Homo sapiens: one gene and its partners. The protein of the gene in region 1 purifies or fractionates together with the protein of each later gene. This does not show direct contact. Each region holds a gene or a part of one and is shown on either strand. Other genes may lie near its edges.

Evidence for each region.
Region 2: the proteins of FAM170A (region 1) and CSNK1A1 purify together in Homo sapiens (affinity purification with mass spectrometry; 4 studies listed by BioGRID and IntAct, with this or other methods). This does not show direct contact.
Region 3: the proteins of FAM170A (region 1) and VAPB purify together in Homo sapiens (affinity purification with mass spectrometry; 4 studies listed by BioGRID and IntAct, with this or other methods). This does not show direct contact.

Annotation. Positions count from the first base shown.
Region 1 is NC_000005.10:119,624,710-119,632,581, forward strand, and holds the start of FAM170A (protein FAM170A), read left to right. Parts: upstream 1-4,848; 5' UTR 4,849-5,059; coding exon 5,060-5,129; intron 5,130-7,872. UniProt on the Homo sapiens protein: Acts as a nuclear transcription factor that positively regulates the expression of heat shock genes. Binds to heat shock promoter elements (HSE).
Region 2 is NC_000005.10:149,492,475-149,499,468, forward strand, and holds the end of CSNK1A1 (casein kinase I isoform alpha), read right to left. Parts: intron 4,387-6,994; coding exon 4,379-4,386; 3' UTR 508-4,378; downstream 1-507.
Region 3 is NC_000020.11:58,448,200-58,451,608, forward strand, and holds the end of VAPB (vesicle-associated membrane protein-associated protein B/C), read left to right. Parts: 3' UTR 1-2,902; downstream 2,903-3,409. UniProt on the Homo sapiens protein: Endoplasmic reticulum (ER)-anchored protein that mediates the formation of contact sites between the ER and endosomes via interaction with FFAT motif-containing proteins such as STARD3 or WDR44.

The DNA of each region.
Region 1 (7,872 bases):
TCACCCCTTGAAGGGCATCTGAGTTGTTTCTAGTTTTTGGCTATTATGAACAAGCTGTTATGTAGGTTTTTGTATGCAGGTTTTTCATTTCTTTGGGATAAATGCCCAATAATGTAATTGCTGGGTAATAAGGTAGTTATATGTTTCAGCTGCCATACTTTTGGCTATAACATTTTACATTTCTAGCAGCAATGTATGAATGATCCAACATCCTCATCAATATTTGATGTTGTCACTTTTTTATTGTAGTCATTCCAATAGTTGTGTAGTGATACACTGTGGTTTTACTTTGCCTTTTCCTAATGGATAATGATATTGAATATCATTTCATGTGCTTAGCCTCCCGAGTACCTAGGACCAGAGCCATGTGCTACCACCCCCAGCTAATTTTTAAAAATTTCTTTTGTAGAGAAGTGTTCTTGCTATGTTGTCCAGGTTGGTCTGGAACTCCTGGGCTCAAGGGATTCTCTCGCCTCCTCCTCTCAAAATGCTGGAATTACAGGCATGAGCCACTCTGCATGGCCAGTGGTATTGTTTTAATTTTGGTGTTCATGTGTCTGTTGGTAATATATAGAAATACAATTGATGTAATTTTATCTTCTGCCCTGTAACTTTGCTGCATTCATTTATAGAAGTTCTCTCTCTCTCTTTCTTTTTTCTTTTTTCTTCCTTCTCTACCTTTGTTCCTCCTCTTCCTCCTCCTCCTCCTCCTTCTCCTCCCCCTCCTCCTCCTCTTCTTTCTGTAGATTTTCTGGGATTTTCTACACAATCATGTCACCTGGAAATAGGAAGTTTTATTTCTTTTATTCTCTCTTGTGTCACTTTTGTTTTCCTTTTTTTGCCCTTTGCACTGGCTTGAACATCCAGTTTTATGCTAAGAGCATTATTATTAAGAACATTGAGAGTAGACAGCTTTGCCATGTTCCTGTTCTTAGGAGAAAAACATTCAGTTTTACCATCAATGTTAGCGGTAGGCTTTACGTAGATTCTCTCTACTGAGTTGTGAAATTTCCTCTCTATTCCTATTTTTATAAGAACAACTTTTAAAAAAAAAAGATATGTGGTCTTGCTGTGTTGTCAGGATGGCCTCAAACTCCTGGGCTCAAGTGATCTTCTCACCTCAGCCCCACAGTAGCTTGGACTATAGGAGTACCAAACCAACCCAGCTAGAATGAATATTTTAAAATGCTTTAAAAAGTTTTGCATCAGTTGATTTTCTTTTCTTCTTCAACCTATGCGATTTTTCTTTTTTAGCCTATAAATACAGTGGATTATATGGATTGAATTTTGAAGTTTAATCAGTCTTGCATCCTTGGAATAGATCAGTCTTGCATCCTTGGAATAGACCCCACTTGGTCATGGTATGTAATTCTTTATACATATTGCTGAATTCTGTTTTCTAATATTTTATTAAGAATTTTTGCGTCTATATTTATTAGGAATATTGGTATGTAGTTTTCTTTTTTGTTGCTATCTTTGTCTGATTTGGTATCAGGGTATTACTAACTTCATAAAATGAATTGAGAAATCATCTCTCTTCCTCTTTTTCTGGAAGAGATTGTGTAGAATTAATGTTAATTCTTCTTTAAACATTTGACAGAATTTCCCAGTGAAACCATGTAGTCATGGAGATTTCTTTTTTGGGAGTTTAACAATTACAAATTCAATTTCCTTTATAGTTATAGGGCATGAAATTTACTTATTTCATACTGAGCGAGTTGTAGCAGTTTGTGTTTTTTGAGAAATTTGTCCATTTCATCTAAGTTGTCAAATTCAAGTCCATAGCTCTGTTTGTGGGGTTTCCTTGCTATTTTTTTGATGTCTACAGGGTCTGTAATTATATCTTCTGCTTTATTCTTAATATTGTCAATTTTCTAGGAGTGGCAGGCTCGCTGGTTTGTTCTTAATATGTGTATATTTTTAGTTACACAAGTTATATGTTAGTACATTTTTGTTATAGAATTCTAATCATCCAGAGTATGAAATATAAGGAGTAGAGTTCTCTTTCATTATCTTCTGCACCTGTTCCTCTCATCCTCCTTCTTGACTCAGAGGTAAGGAAAGTGAACAGTTTGGGGTATGTCTTCCAGGACTGTGACTCCTACCCCTAAGTAATATTTGGTCACCTGGTGGACATTTTTTCCCTGACTCTTCAAGGATCAGAAGGAGTTTTGATGATGAATCTGGTGGTGGGGGAAGTCAAAGAGGAACAGAGGAAAGCCAGAGGGGGAGGTCAGAGGGAGGAACAAACAGCCATCTTTGTCGGCTACAAGAGGAGGCTCCTTTGATCTAGTGTCCCCACATGTTCCCCACATGAAGGCTATGACTTCAGGGGCAGATGTAGAATGGCCTCTTTTGGTGGGGTACCAGATGAAGGAGTCCACAAGCCTAGCTTCTGGAAAATATCTGATCTTTCAGCAAATTCTGTTGTCTCTTCCTACAAAATACATCCAGAAGATGACCACTATCCATTATTTTCACATCTAACATTGTGATCCAAACCAGTCTCATCTCTCTCCTGGATTATTGCAATAGGCCCACTGTTCTCTCTGATTCAGCCTTTGCCTTCTAAAAGTCTATTCTCAACACAGTTACCAGAGTGATCTTTTCAAATGTAATTTCTCCTGCAAAACTCTGCAAGCTTCCCATGTCACTGAATCTAAAACTAATCAATTATCTAGACCTAACTACCTGTTTACAAGGCAATTCAGCTCATAGGGGAACATCTAGATAACATCACAAGAATACAATTAACCATTTCCAAACTGTGGAAAATTCTAGAAGATAAATTACTCAGTTTTTTCCAACAGGTGAATGCCTTAAAAAGGGAGGGAGAACTGTTATAGACTAAAAGATGTATCAACCAATCACAATGTGTGGACTTTGTTTGGATCTTGATCTCAACAATACAGTTATACAAAGATATTTTAGCATATTTGGAGGAAATTGAGTATGGCTTGGTTATGAAATTATATAAAAGAATTATGATTAAATTCATTTGGTGAGATAATGATATTTCTGTTATGCTTTTTAAAAGTTCATATCTTTGTAGGTACATACTGCTGCATTCAAGGAGAAATGACATAATGTCTGGAATTTGCTTTAAAATACAGCAAGTCCCCCACTCCTCTATCTCAAACACCTAAATAAAAAGAAATGAACAAAAGACTAAAAGTCTGTGTGTGTGGTGGTTGGAACAAGAATGGCAGAATACTGATAACTGTTGAAACTGGATTATGTGTACATGAAACTGCATTCCTATTATACAATTCTCTCTACTTTAGTCTGAAAATTTCTACCACCCAAAAAAATGCTCTTTGGCCCCTCTTTTTTAGGGATTCTTTAAGAAACTGGAGATTTAATCTCATCAGCAAATTTTTACAAGGCTACATTTGCCCTATCTTCATTCTCCTTCTGCCTGGGGACAGTCTGCAGTGCCCTTTCAAATTTGGGCCCATCTTGGTCCTCTGGGTATTTCTACTGCTTTTTTAATGCAGTGATTTCTGGGAGTCCCCCTCATACTTGTCAACTAATAGTCCCACTGGACTGGGGCCACTGCCCCAAATAAGGTGTCTCTAATTTTAGATTGGAATCAGGAAGATCCAGATGGGTTGCCACTTATAACTGGTATACATTTCAGCCCATGAGCAGAGATGTGCAGGAAATAGTATGCAATTTTCTTATGTAACTCCATTTAATTTGTAATTTAAGCCTTGGTTCTGTTGATGTCCTCTTTGGATTTCCACCCCTCCCTATTTGGAAATCATACAGGGCTGAGGTTTTGAGGGTGGGGTGAGAGCATAGTCTCTGGTTATTGGAGCATACAGCTGAAGTTTAGATGCCCATCAGCTCAGCTGCCAGGGAGTCTTTAGGTGGTGTGGCTCCTATGCCATGTGTGAGATAGGTCGCCATGATTCTGCCTGTACGCATAATACAGGCAGCCCTTCTTGAAGTTTTTGCCACATGTACCTCTTCAGCCACATTTTAGAGGGCTCCTCTCCTCCATAGTTTGAAGATCCCTCTCTCTCTCTGACCTAATCAGTACCTCTCAACACTATAGTAGAGCAAGAAGGGGGCATGCCTAGTTAAAAAAAATCCTGCTTCCGTTATGTTTCTGCTAACTTTCCTCTTTCCTACAGAGTTTGAGATTTTAGAAATAAAAGTCAGGTGGGGTGTGGTGGCTCATGCCTACAATCCTAGCACTTTGGGAGCCTGAGGCAGGAGGATAGCTTGAGGCTAGGAGTTCAAGACCAACCTGGGCAACATACTGAGACCCTGTTTCTCAAAAAAAAAAAAAAAAAAAAAAATTAGCCGGGTGTGGTGCCTCGTGTCTGGTGCCTGTTGTCCCAGCTACTCGGGAGGCTGAAGTGTGATGATCACTTGAGCCTAGGGGCTGAAGTGACCCTATGATCACACCACTGCAATCCAGCCTGGGCAACAGAGAGAGACCCTGTCTCTGAACAAACAAAACAAAATAAAAACAACAAAAAAAAAAAAAAGAAAGAAAAGTCAAGATGATTAACATGCTATTGCTGCTTTCAGCCCTGCCATACCCCTCCTCTGAGCAATGAACACAAAGCCTGCTACCTGCTTGAGTCCAGAAGGGAAAGGGTGAAAAAAAAAGAAGAAAAGAAAAAAATTAAACAGAACATGTTAACATCTCAAAATATTCTGCCACATTTGAAATACGGGAGAGTTGAATTCATTAGAGGACTTCTATTGGAAAAAAGGAATTGTTTTTGAAAATGATGTCTCTGCAGTTGCACAGACTGTGTTGGACCTAGGTCCGTAGAACGCCGTGATGTCATCATTGATGTCAGAGAATCTGCGATGGGCCTGGTGACCTTTGAACCTTAACAGCCCTGCAGTGTAGTGGGCACTGGGCAGTGCTGCTCCTTCACTAAGCGGTCTGAGTTCTTTAGCTATCTCGGAGATTCAACTACGTTTACTCGTACTGAATCTTTTTAATGAATTTCCTGAGAGCCAAGAAGGGCCAATCTACAGGAAAAAGTGGGAGGTGGACATTAAGCATCTTCTAGAAACTCTTCTAGCTGATATCATGAAACGACGACAAAAGAGGAAACATTTGGAAAATGAAGAGTCCCAGGAAACCGCTGAGAAGGGAGGAGGTATGTGCGGGGCAAACTTTCTGGGGCACAAGCGTCACTGGCCAGCCTGAGCCGCCTTCTTTTTCTTTTTTGAGACGGAGTCTCGCTCTATCGCCCAGGCTGGAGTGCAGTGGCGCGATCTTGGCTCACTGAAAGCTCTGCCTCTCGGGTTCACGCCATTCTCCTGCCTCAGCCTCCCGAGTAGCTGGGACTACAGGTGCCCACCACCACGCCCGGCTAATTTTTTGTATTTTTAGTAGAGACGGGGTTTCACCGTGTTAGCCAGGATGGTCTCGATCTCCTGACCTCCTGATCCGCCTGCCTCGGCCTCCTTTTTTTTTTTTTTTTCGTTTCTGAGACAGAGTCTTGCTCTGTCGCCCAGGCTGGAGTGCAGTGGTGTGAGCTCGGCTCACTGCAAGCTCCGCCTCCCAGGTTCACGCCATTCACCTGCCTCAGCCTCCCGAGTAGCTGGGACTATAGGCGCCCGCCACCACGCCTGGCTAATTTTTTTTTTTTTTTTTTTTTTTGTATTTGTAGTAGAGACAGGGTTTCACCGTGTTAGCCAGGATGGTTTCGATCTCCTGACCTCATGATCCACCTGCCTCGGCCTCCCAAAGTGCTGGGATTATAGGCGTGAGCCATCGCTCCCGGCCAGCCTGAGCCTTCTTTAGGGAGGAGAAACTGAGGAGAATGTACCACCTATGCAGTAGGGAGGGGAAGACCTGGCTGTTGGCTGATGCCCGCACATCCATCTTGAGGGTACCCAGATGTGAGACGGACAGGAAGTTCAGATGCCACTGGCACACAGAAAGCCAACCCTGCTGGGCTGAGAACTTTTGCTCTGGGGCTGCTGGTACCTGGAACTATGCCAGTCTCAGGCAGGCGGGGGACCCACTTACAAAGACCCAGTGATGCAGCCTGAGTCTCATCTTTCTCTCGTATTCTCTTTATTTGCTCTTTCTCTGGGGTGACTGAGGTGGAAGGTGTGAAGGGTGCTGGTAGAAGTCTATGATTTGCACTACACCTTTTAGCAGAAACGAGAGTAGCCCAATGAGTTAAAGGCCTTGTTGAAAAATATCTTGAGAAGTGAAATGCTTGTTAGAAAGTAGATTAAACACTTGTTTAGGGATGGCGTCATAGTGAAACCACGGAGGTTTGATTGCTTCAGCGGGAAGAATTAACCAATTAATCCAATAGAGTTTGTGAATCCACAGTGTGGGACTTCCCAGAGGAAATGAAGCACAGGGTAAGGGCCTCAGATCGCTGTCAATTTACTTCCCAGGCTGCATGATAATGGCATGTATTAAATGTAAACAAGCCACTTATCCTGAAAGGGGGATGCTCACATGCAGGAGACAGGGCAGAAAGGAGCCTGCCCCAGAGATGGCCCTGGAGGCTTCTGCCCCGATTAGAGCTCAGCAGCGCCTATGAGGCATAAAGACCTGTAGGTTGAGCCCTGGGAATGGAGGCGTGGAGAGTAGGCATGGAGAGCAGGGGGCTGGGACAGGAAGGGGAAGGCAATGGTTTTCCTCTCCTTCATCTACCCTTACATTTCAGAATGTTTTGTCTGCCTGTGTGTGTGTCTGTGTGTGCACATGTGTGTGTGTGTTGGGAGGGGGAGGACTGGAGATAATGGGAGCACAGTGGTGGGGTCTGCGGGGTGAACTTCCTATCACCATGCCTGGGCCTGGGCAACACTCAATACACATAACAGTGTATACCGAATTTTTGTTAAGGGTATTCCAGGAGACAGTCACTCATATGCCCATATATACTCTGATACAGAGAAAGAGTCACACACCTCCACACACAGTGGATATAGTTATATACACATACCGTTCCTCTATTACATACTCACACAACCCATGTGTGTGACAGTCTTTTCTTCCTACAGAGATTTCTTGTGTGTGGGGAGTGTGTGTGTGTGTCTCCTCAACTCTCACACAAACACATCTATGTTAAACTATCTCTAAATACCTCTTTAAGAGCCAGTCACACATCATACATGCCATATCTGCAACACATTGTGTAGCAGAGCCAGGCCTGCTTTGCATAGACCACAACGAAACAAAGATTCACCACCATCCCCTTATTAGGGTTGCCGGATAAAATACAGGATGTTCAGTTAAACTTGAATATCAGATAAACCACCAATGATTTTTTAGTATAAGTGTGTCCCAAATATTTTATGGAACATACTGACACTAAAAATAAGTATGACAAATATTGCACGGGACATACTTACGCTAAAAAAATTATTTGTAATTTATCTAAAATTCAAATTTAACTTGGCATCAGCTATTTTTGTTTGCTAAATCTGATGACCCTTATAAATTCATAATGAGCTGACCTATGATATACTTATATATTTCTGCTTAATGTCTGTCTTCCTTGTCTAGAATGGAAAGTCCACTTAGAAGAAGGACTGTTTTGTTCAGTATTCCTAGAGCCTAGAAGAGTGGACTGGTGTCTGATTCATGGTAGCTGTTCATGAAAATATTGCCAGATGAATGAATTAATGTACATTATAAATACAAGCCACACCATACAATCAGGAAAAATTACATATTGCATAATTTCAGGGTTGTAAACACAAAACTATGCACACAAACTCCACAGACACAGACACATGTTTCTACAATATACCCACACAAATCTACACATATCAAAGGCTATCTGGTATGTATCACTCTTACGCTTCAGACGTACTCATAGTCACCACACAGGCCTATGTTCCTATTGATACACTATCAAAATACCTGTT
Region 2 (6,994 bases), about 30 Mb from region 1:
AGTAAGGGAATATAACTATCTTCCCTCCAACTCTGTGCTTTGGTATCCTTATATGCAAAATGGAGACAGGATGTACTTCACAGGGCGCTGATTAGGCAAATACATGTAAAGCACTTAGAATAGTGCATGACACTCAGCAAATGATGGCTAATACTATCAATCTCTGGGTTTAAAAGGGTGATATAACAAGAGGAGCACCATGGCTTAACTGCATGAAAGCAAGAAAATCAGGTTGAGGTCTTGGCTCTATAAAGCTTACCAATTACCAACATGCCTTGCCTTGGGCAGCCCCACTCTTTTCTGAAACAGTTAACTGTTTCTTATTACTGTTATGAGGAATAAAAGAGATGACATATATTAAGGATTCTGAAAACTAGTTTGCAAAATGGTGATTTTTCTAACACATAAAATCCTTTCACCTTAAATTAGCTGACATTCAAGTTAGAGCTTTCTCTTCTCTCCATTTTTAAGTCAACATGGAATCATGGTATCTTATTCAGTGAGTTGTAACGTTGCTACCAGTTTATTTTGATAATTGACACAGATTTAGCAAGTATAATCCTTCAAGTGGCTCCTGTGCCCTTTTGACATGTATCCACCTTTTTGTTGTTGTTGAGACGGAGTCTCACTGCAACGCCCAGGCTGGAGTGCAGTGGCACGATCTCAGCTCACTGCAACCTCCATCTCCCGGGTTCAAGCGATTCTTCTGCCTCAGCCTCTTGAAAAGCTGGGATTACAGGCGCCCGCCACCACACCCGGCTAATTTTTGTATTTTTAGTAGAGACAGGGTTTCACTATGTTGGCCAGGCTGGTCTTGAACTCCTGCCCACTTCGGCCTCCCAAAGTGCTGGAATCACAGGCGTGTGCCACTGCTCCTAGCCAACCACTTTTTTTTTTTTTTTTTTTTTTAGATTTCCTTTGTGGCACCATAATAGAATGTTCCAGGTTCATCTCATATTTCTCCATCCCAGGAGCCATTATTACTCTACTTTTGAGTATGTCCTCAAAACTGGTCTAACAAGTCATTTCAGAAAATAATTTCACTTCAACAATACACTGTTTGTTGATTCAACACAAACTGCATGGGCTGCTTAGATCAATTTACACTTGGTTCATCGCCATCTTTGGCTGTTTCAAACATACACTGCTAAAAAAAAAAAAAGATTGTCATTAAGAATATTACAATAGAAATGGAAGTTTTGAGGAGGAAGAAAATCCCCCAAAATGTAAGCAATGGTAATAATGCATTTAAAGTATAGTCTCACAAAGTCTCACTTAAGAGAGCAGCACACCCAGGACACACATATTGATCTGCTGACACCACTTCTTTACTATACTTCATATAGATGTCCTCACATCTTGATTTACATGGTTATAACTGCTTAAAAACTGGCAAAGAGAAAACCTAAAATAATGCTTTATACCAGTTTGAGTCAGAACCAGACTGTTCCAGACTAGTTGGAAAACGACCCAGGAACTCACCTGCATTAAATGCTGAATTTAACTGAGCTAAAAATGTCTAGGCCATCCCTTCTTAGAATTCCCATGACTCATTCTAGTCAAAAGCTATAAGAACATATTCCTTAATAGTTCAGCAAACTTTAGGGAAAACTAGCTCATTGTCTTGGGTTCTAAAGTCCTTTTGTTTGATTATTTTTATTATAATGAAATTAAACTTATGACTATTACAGTATGCTCAGCTTAAAACATTTATGAGTACTGCAAGGACTAACAGAAACAGGAAAAATCCTACTAAAAATATTTGTTGATGGGAAATCATTGTGAAAGCAAACCTCCAAATATTCATTTGTAAGCCATAAGAGGATAAGCACAACCATATGGGAGGAGATAACCAGTCTCTCCCTTCATATATATTCTTTTTTATTTCTTGTTATACCTTCCCAAAACAGAGACATTCAACAGTAGTTAGAATGGCCATCTCCCAACATTTTAAAAAAACTGCACCCCCCAATGGGTGAACAAAGTAAAGAGTAGTAACCTAGAGTTCAGCTGAGTAAGCCACTGTGGAGCCTTAAGTGGTGAGGTCTTCCAATTTCAGAGTGATGTGTCTTCAACTTGTATCATCATTTTAGCGGAAAAACATAATTTAATTTTGGTGAAATGAGATTCATCTCGTAACAGGATTAGTAACAGCATTCACTGAATTTCACACTCTTCTTTTGTGAACAGTGAAGAAAATGAATGGTAGCTAGAAGATCAATGGGATTCCAGCTCCAGCTGCAGATGGAATGACGATATACCAGGACAAAAAACACCTATATTTTGATTTACAAAGCTAACAGCAGTTTTAAATCTGCAACTTAATTACAGACCAACTACACCACAACCTTTTCAAATGGCAAAAATACAAAAAAGTGTTACAAAAATATTTCAGAAAAAGTGCATAGTCTAAGTGCATAGTAAATAAAAGCACTGAAAAATATCTTGCTAGAGGGAGTTCAGCTTGGAAGTTATTACCAAAGCTAAACATTTTTATTTTACACAAACTATACTCAAAAATAGCTTTATGAGACTGATTTCTGGCTAAAAGTATCAAAGGGTTTATTAGTCAAGAAACAAATACCTCAACCGACAAGGGTGGATAGAAAAGAAACAAAGAAGCTGCCTACCCCAGAAGTTCAGACTTAATAAAATTTCTTCAGTATTACGGTACTAATATCCCTTAATGGCAGAATGTGATAATCATGGAATTAATTATTGCTAAAGTAGTTTTCAAATAAAAAAAAGAAAAAAGAAAACAAAACAAATTAAACTTGACACAATCTGACCAAACACGTGTCAATTTACAATTTCAAGGTTATTTTACAAAATACCTACATTTACACAATAGGCTCCCGGCAGCATTTCCAGACAAATGTTCTTTTAATTTATCCTGACATGCTATAAATGAATAAATTACACTATTTAAAAATTATCATCAGTAAGTTTTCCTTTCTCATGGGTCAGAGAAAAAGAAATGAGCGTGCAAAGAAGATTGAGAGGAAGCGCACGCACACAGATAACTTAAAGAAGCAGGAGGGGCTGGGGAGGGTCAACAATCACTGAACCTCACACAGTGTGATGCTCTCCAAGGGTGAAAGTCAACTGCTTATAGCCATTTCAAAAGTATTTTAAAGAAAAATGTTTTGTAGGGAAACCCTTTAATGCTTTCATTTTTATTCAAAATCAGTCCAGCTGCTAGTCAGCGGGCAGCAGCTACAATACCAAGTTCTGGCAGTTGCAGTACTAGATATTGTGCCTGCAAGTCATAAAAAAAAAAAAAAAAAAAGAAAAAAATGAAAGAATGCCTTTCCCCTTCAGACAAAAGAATTACTTTTTTCATTTTTCTTAAAAAAAGAGGAAAAGTTATAACACGAAACCTAAATTGACTTGCAAAGGAATACCATGTAACAAATGGCTTGAAGTAGTCTATCAAAAAATTGGGGAGATTTTTATTTAATAGTGAGTCAGCAAGGCATTTTTTGTTGTTTAAAAAAAATCTCATTTCCTTACAGAAACAGTTTTTAGTTTTTAATGAACTTGTAAACAAAAAAGCTCCCATTTCAAAATAAAAACAAAATCCCAGATCATATAGATGTTTACAGTGATTACATTTATCTAAGCAACATACATACATGTTCAGTTGTAAGATGTTAACTAAATTTCTGTGACAAATATGCTTTTTTTTTAATACCAAGAACATTATAGAGTTAATGCAGAGTCCTAAGGATAATCTAGTAGTCACTAAGTTTTTCTTAAGTCTTCACTTTAGATGCTGTTATTTCTAGCACAATTAAGCAGGCAGAGTCTTTCATATGCTCAAACACTGGAATCTTTGGTTGCTACCATATCAGCTGGCTTGCAGACAAGAAGCCAACCATTTTAAGAATGTTTTAAGTGAACAACTTGCAAACCCCAGGGATGGAAAAACCCTAAGAATGCACAATTGTGAGCATTTAACAACCATCACAACTGTGGCTGAAGACTGTTCATGCCGTTCTTCTGAAATGAGATCTCAAAGCAGTATAGTTCAAAACAAAAGGTTTTAACAAAAAATTGGCATATGCACAATTTCTCCACCAATTTTTGTGTGTCAACCATTTAGTTAACTTTTCCACTTGAAAAAATGCAATAGAAAACCGGACACCATGTTTCACTATCTCAGTTAATATTCACAATTACAGAGGCTACAACTCAGGATACAGCATCACCAATGCTGCCCAGAGTCAGTTTATACTGAAATTAAGTTCTTTACACCAAGTAAATGGTTGTCCACAACCACTGGCTAGTGTACATATGAACTAAAATTTCTAGATTTGGGGAGAAACAAATGCTGCTCCGATCATCTGCTCTGCTTCTTCTGTTCCTCAATTCATGCTTAGAAACCTGGTAAAAAATCAAAACAAAAAAAAAGTTAAAATTCCAAGTCAAAAATTTTAAATTACACCCAAAATATGGAAATTGGGTGGAACTGAGCCAATAATTATAGTGGCTCATGTTATTTCGTCTCTTGTGAAAAGTATTAGCTCAACTTTTTAAAACAGAAAAACATGAATCTATACTTAAAACTAATTTTTTCTGTTTTGAATGACTCTAGGAAGGAGTGGTACAGTGAATTCAAAGCCTCTCAGCATACTAAAATAATTATTAGTAATTCAAATGAGCATGTTTCTGCATTTTTACATATGCAGAACATATTAGGCATTCACATATTTATCAAATCAATGAAAAACAGATTGCTTTGCTTTAACTAAAGAATACAATTTTAATCCTACCATAGGCACAAATTATTTCTGACACAAATTAAAACGGTTAGCTTTAATAATAAATGCATTCAAAGCATAATTATCTGTATTATTTTACTAAACAAAGACCTGAGAAGCATGTAATTTCTGTAGAGAAACCTTAGACCTTTAAAACTTCTTTACCGGCCGCATTAGAAAGATTGTTTTGTGACTCATTTAAAAATGTAAGCAAGTGATGCTTTTTTGGCTTTATTTACTTCTCAAGCCTACACATTCTACAAATACTTCCCTCCTCCACCACAAGTAGACCCTAGGGCCTCTACATAGGCCCTAGGCCAAGTTTGAATACAAGAAGCCTCAGGTCATAACCACACTTTATCTACAGCTAAAGGCAAAGGGAGAAAATATGCCTGTCCCACAGCAATAGCCTGAAAATCTCTTAAGCACCGTTTTTCCTCTCACCAGACACCCACTCTGAGGCACCAATGCTCCTTTGTCTACCTCCTTACAAATGAGCTAGAAACTATAGCTCATTCTAGCCCACTCCAATCAATCCTCACTTCTTCAGCCCAGGTCATGTTTTCTTCAATCATAAACTGCTCCTTTTCTTTTAGTTCTTTTTTCTTTTTTTTTGGAGACAGTCTCGCTCTGTCACCCAGGCTGGAGGGCAGTGGCATGATCTTGGCTCACCGCAACCTCTGCCTCCTGGGTTCAAGCGATTCTCCTGCCTCAGCCTCCTGAGTAGCTGGGACTATAGGTGCCTGCCACCATGCCTGGCTAATTTTTGTATTTATAGTAGAGACACAGTTTCACTGTGTTGGCCAGGCTGGTCTCAAACTCCTGACCTCGTGATCCACCCGCCATGGCCTCCCAAAGTGTGGGGGTTACAGGTGGGAGCCACCGTGCCCAGCTTCTTTTACTTTTTAAACATTTGTTGGGCCATCTCCCATGGGCTTTGTGGGAGAAACAAAATAATTCTAATATTTATTTCTTATGCATATATGCCCCTTTTTTTTTTTGGGAAATAATAGCGAACATACAAGAGAGTAGGTGCATAATAGATCTTTGTTGCCTGGGTACTAAGTCCATAAGCACCAAATGCCAAAAATGAAAGATAACATAACTTTGAGAATATACTTCACCATAGGGAATATCATTTGATGCATGTTATTAAGAAGTATTAGCGAGGTAAACCTTTCTTTTAAAGGTTGTCAAACCAAACCTTAATAAAAATCTGACTATACCCTGTGACCAAATTTCAATTTTAAAATACAGGAAAAGTTTCAAGCTTCTTGTTTGGGAGTTTAAAAAAGAAAAAAAGTACAATACAGGATAAGCTATGCAGGTTAAGAAACTAAGGATTAAACAGAAATTAAACAGATTAAACAGGATTAAACAGAATTCCCCCATCAGGATTTGGTTTCAAGTCTTGCAATTCTTCTTAAACATGATTTAAAAAACGTATTTTCACAACTACTAAAATTGCTGGGTTTTATCATAGTTTTCTTATGTAATCATATTAAACTAATTGTTATGGTGAATATACCAAATGGCTTTCAAAGGGAAAACCACCATCACTAACAAACTAAAATGGAAACATGCTACATTGTCAGTCAAAATACAAGGAAACTCTTGTGCCTTTAATAGCAAGAAAACTTCAGAATGTATCTGTACATCTTTTGACCTGTTATCTGAGGAATTGCTGAGTCAATAAATGATTACAATTGTTTAGAAACTGGTAAAAGGCTACCCTAACAATATTCCTGGTAGAATAGAGCAGTCAAATCCAGCTTTAACTCTTCAAATGGGTCAATGGTATGACATTCCAGCCAGGGATCAACATTTCTCCAGTGAATTGTCCTAAGATGTTACTGAAGTATGTTTAGGAAAAAACCTCAATAGGAATATTCAACAGGTATTCAACAGTCTTGCAGTACTAAGCATTCTTTTCCCCAATACGCATTGGTCTTTGGTTTTTATCTTGCAGATTAGGTGGCTCATCCAGGCTTCCAAGAGTTCAAGAACCCATCTTCACTGTAACATCAGTTAAAATGAGGAATGAATCCCTTTATTCCTTAAAAAAAAAGGGGAGGGGGAGGGGGGAGTTAAAACAGAGTTGGAGGATGTGATGATTAAGAAGTTAATAGCTTAATTAAATTTCAAATCTGCAAAAAGCAAAAAAAAGTTTATTTTTATATAACTAACAAGGATATTCTATCCCTGCCCGCCACCCAATCTGAAATCTAAAA
Region 3 (3,409 bases), on another chromosome or scaffold:
ACTCTAGTTCATGACATACAAATCCCATAAGGCCAACGACCACTCTTCTGGAACACCAAGAGCAGCTCTGAGATCATGCTGGCCCTACGCGAATTGAGTTTCTGTGGCCTAATTGGATTTGGAGAACGCCTTCCCTGGCCCCTTTTCCTCAGACAGATCTGCTCTGATAGGAACCTTTTCAAGAAAGTTACTGTTGTTTCAATGCCACTCCTTACCTGTATAGAACATTTCCAATACATTCGCTCATTGAACTTAATCCTTGCAACTGTGACTGGGGGGTAGATGGCTCTGTTTGCATACGAAGAAATAAAGGCTCCAGGAGGTTAAATCGGGCAACTTTTTAGAACTAAATCAGTCTCTGTAAGGCCTACATTGCTAAGATACCATTTCAGCTCTGAAAATCTGCTTCAGGGAAGTGAGTGGATGAGGCCTTCCTGCCTCAGCTACTCTGCCCGTCTGTACATCTTTTGTGTCTGCCTCCGTACCTTATTCAGTTATTTTCACACTAAAGTAAGTAGAATTAAGACTGTAGTTCAGATGCTTTTTCTTTTTCTGTTGGAAACTGAACACACTACAGACAGTGAAAAAAGGTACATATTCCATTTTCTCATTGCCTGAAGATCTCTGCTGATGCTCCTGGAGAATGACTTTGGGGGCTTTAGAAAGAATATTGCCAGTCCGTCTCGGCAAGGAGATGATGGGAGCGCTTTATATGGAGGCTTTACATGACTTGTAAATTAAATGTGAATGAGGGCAGTTGATTAAAATTGGTATTACAGAAGGGCCCTGCTGAGGTTTGAAAACAGCTGAGCTGCTGATGTCTCAGGCCTTTCCCTGAATTAGCACTGCGGTTCTCCAGGATATCAGCAAAGAGGGCAAGTAATAGAAGCCCCTGATAAGGAGCGTCAGCCGACAGGCAAGCTTGGGAGGCTGTGGGAATGGGTCTGCCCCCAGCTTCACAGACCTCTTCCTCCAGCCTCTGAATCCCATTAGCCACAGCCTAGAACATTAGCTGAGCTGCACAAGCTCACCCACCCCTGTGCCAGGGGGCCCTGACCTCCCTCCATGCCATGTTTTTGGCTGTATCTACGGCACTTAACAATAGGGGCTTTTTATTTTCATTACAGAGATATTTTGAAAAATTTAAAAGACATGAACTCACATAAACAGTTATGGATGATAGTTAAAAGAGAAACGGGTGGAGGTGGATGAGAGGTTGTCTTCATGAATATAATTACTTGAGATTTTTTTTTCTTAATGGAATTAGTTTATTAGAAAATGTCTGTGTTAAATCCGTAGAAAAGGAAGAAAAGTGTAGCAACAAAAATGTAGCCATTATCTAACTTGCCATAAATATTTGCAGTTATGATACCTTGGAATGTTGCCACGATATGGATTGCTTTGATTAAAAGATGTCAGTTGAATAAAACAGTACTGTGGGAGAATCGCTTTCTGCTGCTAGATAAATGCTGATGTTTATTTTTAAACCAGGAAACATTGATCCTGTAACAATGCCCGATTACAATTGCTTTATTACACCCCAGGGCTGATGGAGATGTAATCACTTGGCTAATGGATGTGGGTGCAGGACAGATGCTCGCTTGCTGGCCTGCTTTCCTGCTTGCATTCTGATGAGCTGCAGGAGTGCGCCTGGCCTTCTGCAGGTGGAGCTGCTGTCAGAGCTTCGTTTCACTGATACCCAAAGCCATGTCTGACTGAAATAAAACAGGTTCCCTTTTTTTTTCCCTTTGGAAAATGCCAACTAAGGGAGACTAATCAGATATCTTAACACAATTTCATCCAGGCTTAGTGCTAACAAGATTGCGGGGCTTTTTAGGGTTTAAGAAGATGAGAAATGAGTGTGCACGTTTCACACGTTGACTTGCCGGTTTTTCCATGTCATACAAAAAAGTCCTGGCTGTTTCTCCGAACTGGCTGCCTGCATTCCCGTCTTTCTTTTGTTTTTAAGAAATAGACTGAATTCAGCTGTTAATCCTCTAGTACAGTATCCATGTTAAAATGTTTTTCCATTGCATCTTTTATGTGAATTCAAAGGTCAGAATTTATTGTCTGTGATATTGAGACCATGTGTACAAGAACTACTTTTTGCTTTTCATCATTCACTCCTTAGCAAACGTTTCGTAAGTACCCTCTGTCTGTTTGCTACTATATGAGGTGCTGCGAAATTAGTGGGCGTGGCTTTTTATATTTTTCATTCGTGTGTAGCCTAAGTAAGGTGACTCAAGATGATACACCGAGAGAAAAATGCAAAATATATTTGGTTCTCATTTCTGTTGCTGTCGTTTCCTTTTTAAAGACGATTTATCAACTGCTGCCATTTGGAACTTCCTATAAGAAACTAAAAATGATCTATTTCAGTGTTCCTTTCGCCTTTCCTCTGCTTTCTGAATAAATGGTTTCAGTAACCCATGCTGTTCTCTCCCTATTCTACGTCTTTCTCCCTATGTTGAAAAAAGATTCCCACAGTTTCTGATGTGTGTGTTTATAGTCTTCAATGTATGTTAACATGTTAGGAACTGAGTATCTTAAGAGATGTCTTAGAATGCTTTAGTTTTCATAATTTGTCCTTTATGTATTTTTCATTGTATTTGCTGTTTTGACATGGAAGTAATTTAAAAAGTTGGTGCAGGAAAGGACTCTTTACTGTTGCACATTTTGGTTTTCTGATATGTAATAAATTCATGGCTTGGCAGCTGACATGATGTTTCCCAGAGAGAAGGAGATGTATTTCTGCAGGGTCCAGACCAAAAGAGCCATTTACAGCATGTTCTCCCATGTTCCATTATCAGCCTGATGAAACCTGCCCTGCCAAGGCATAAACTTTTGTACTAGCTGTCTCCATATTATGTTCAATAAATTCTGTGCTCTGAATATATTTAAAGGATGCTTCAGTGTAAAATTATTTTGAATGGATGGCTTAATTCCATTGAGATAGGCTTTGGAGTGTGGACTAGAGCCCGTTGCTCGACTCTCACTGCTTTGTAGGAACATGAAATTGGTTTAAATTAAAATCAGAGACCTTTTGCACCAGAAAACAGATCTAAGAGATCACTTAGGTCAACGTCTTCATTTTACTGATGAGGAAACTTTTGCCCAGAGAGCTTAAGCACAGGGACCAGCTTGCATGTCAGTGTTTTCCTATTGGGGGAAGTGTGTGTCATCAGTGATTTACAAAGGTACCCACCTGTGTAAATTGCTTCCAGCTTTGAAAGGTGGGTGGATTCTGTCTTTTAAGTAGTGGTTGACAGTTCTCCATCTTACAGTGTTACCTTGTTAAAACGTTAATGAAAACAATTTTAACTTCTTTTGGAAAAGTAAGGTGGGCAAATGGTAAGACTTCACACAAGACCAAGGGGTACACAGTATACAAAATCAGGTTTCCTCCATT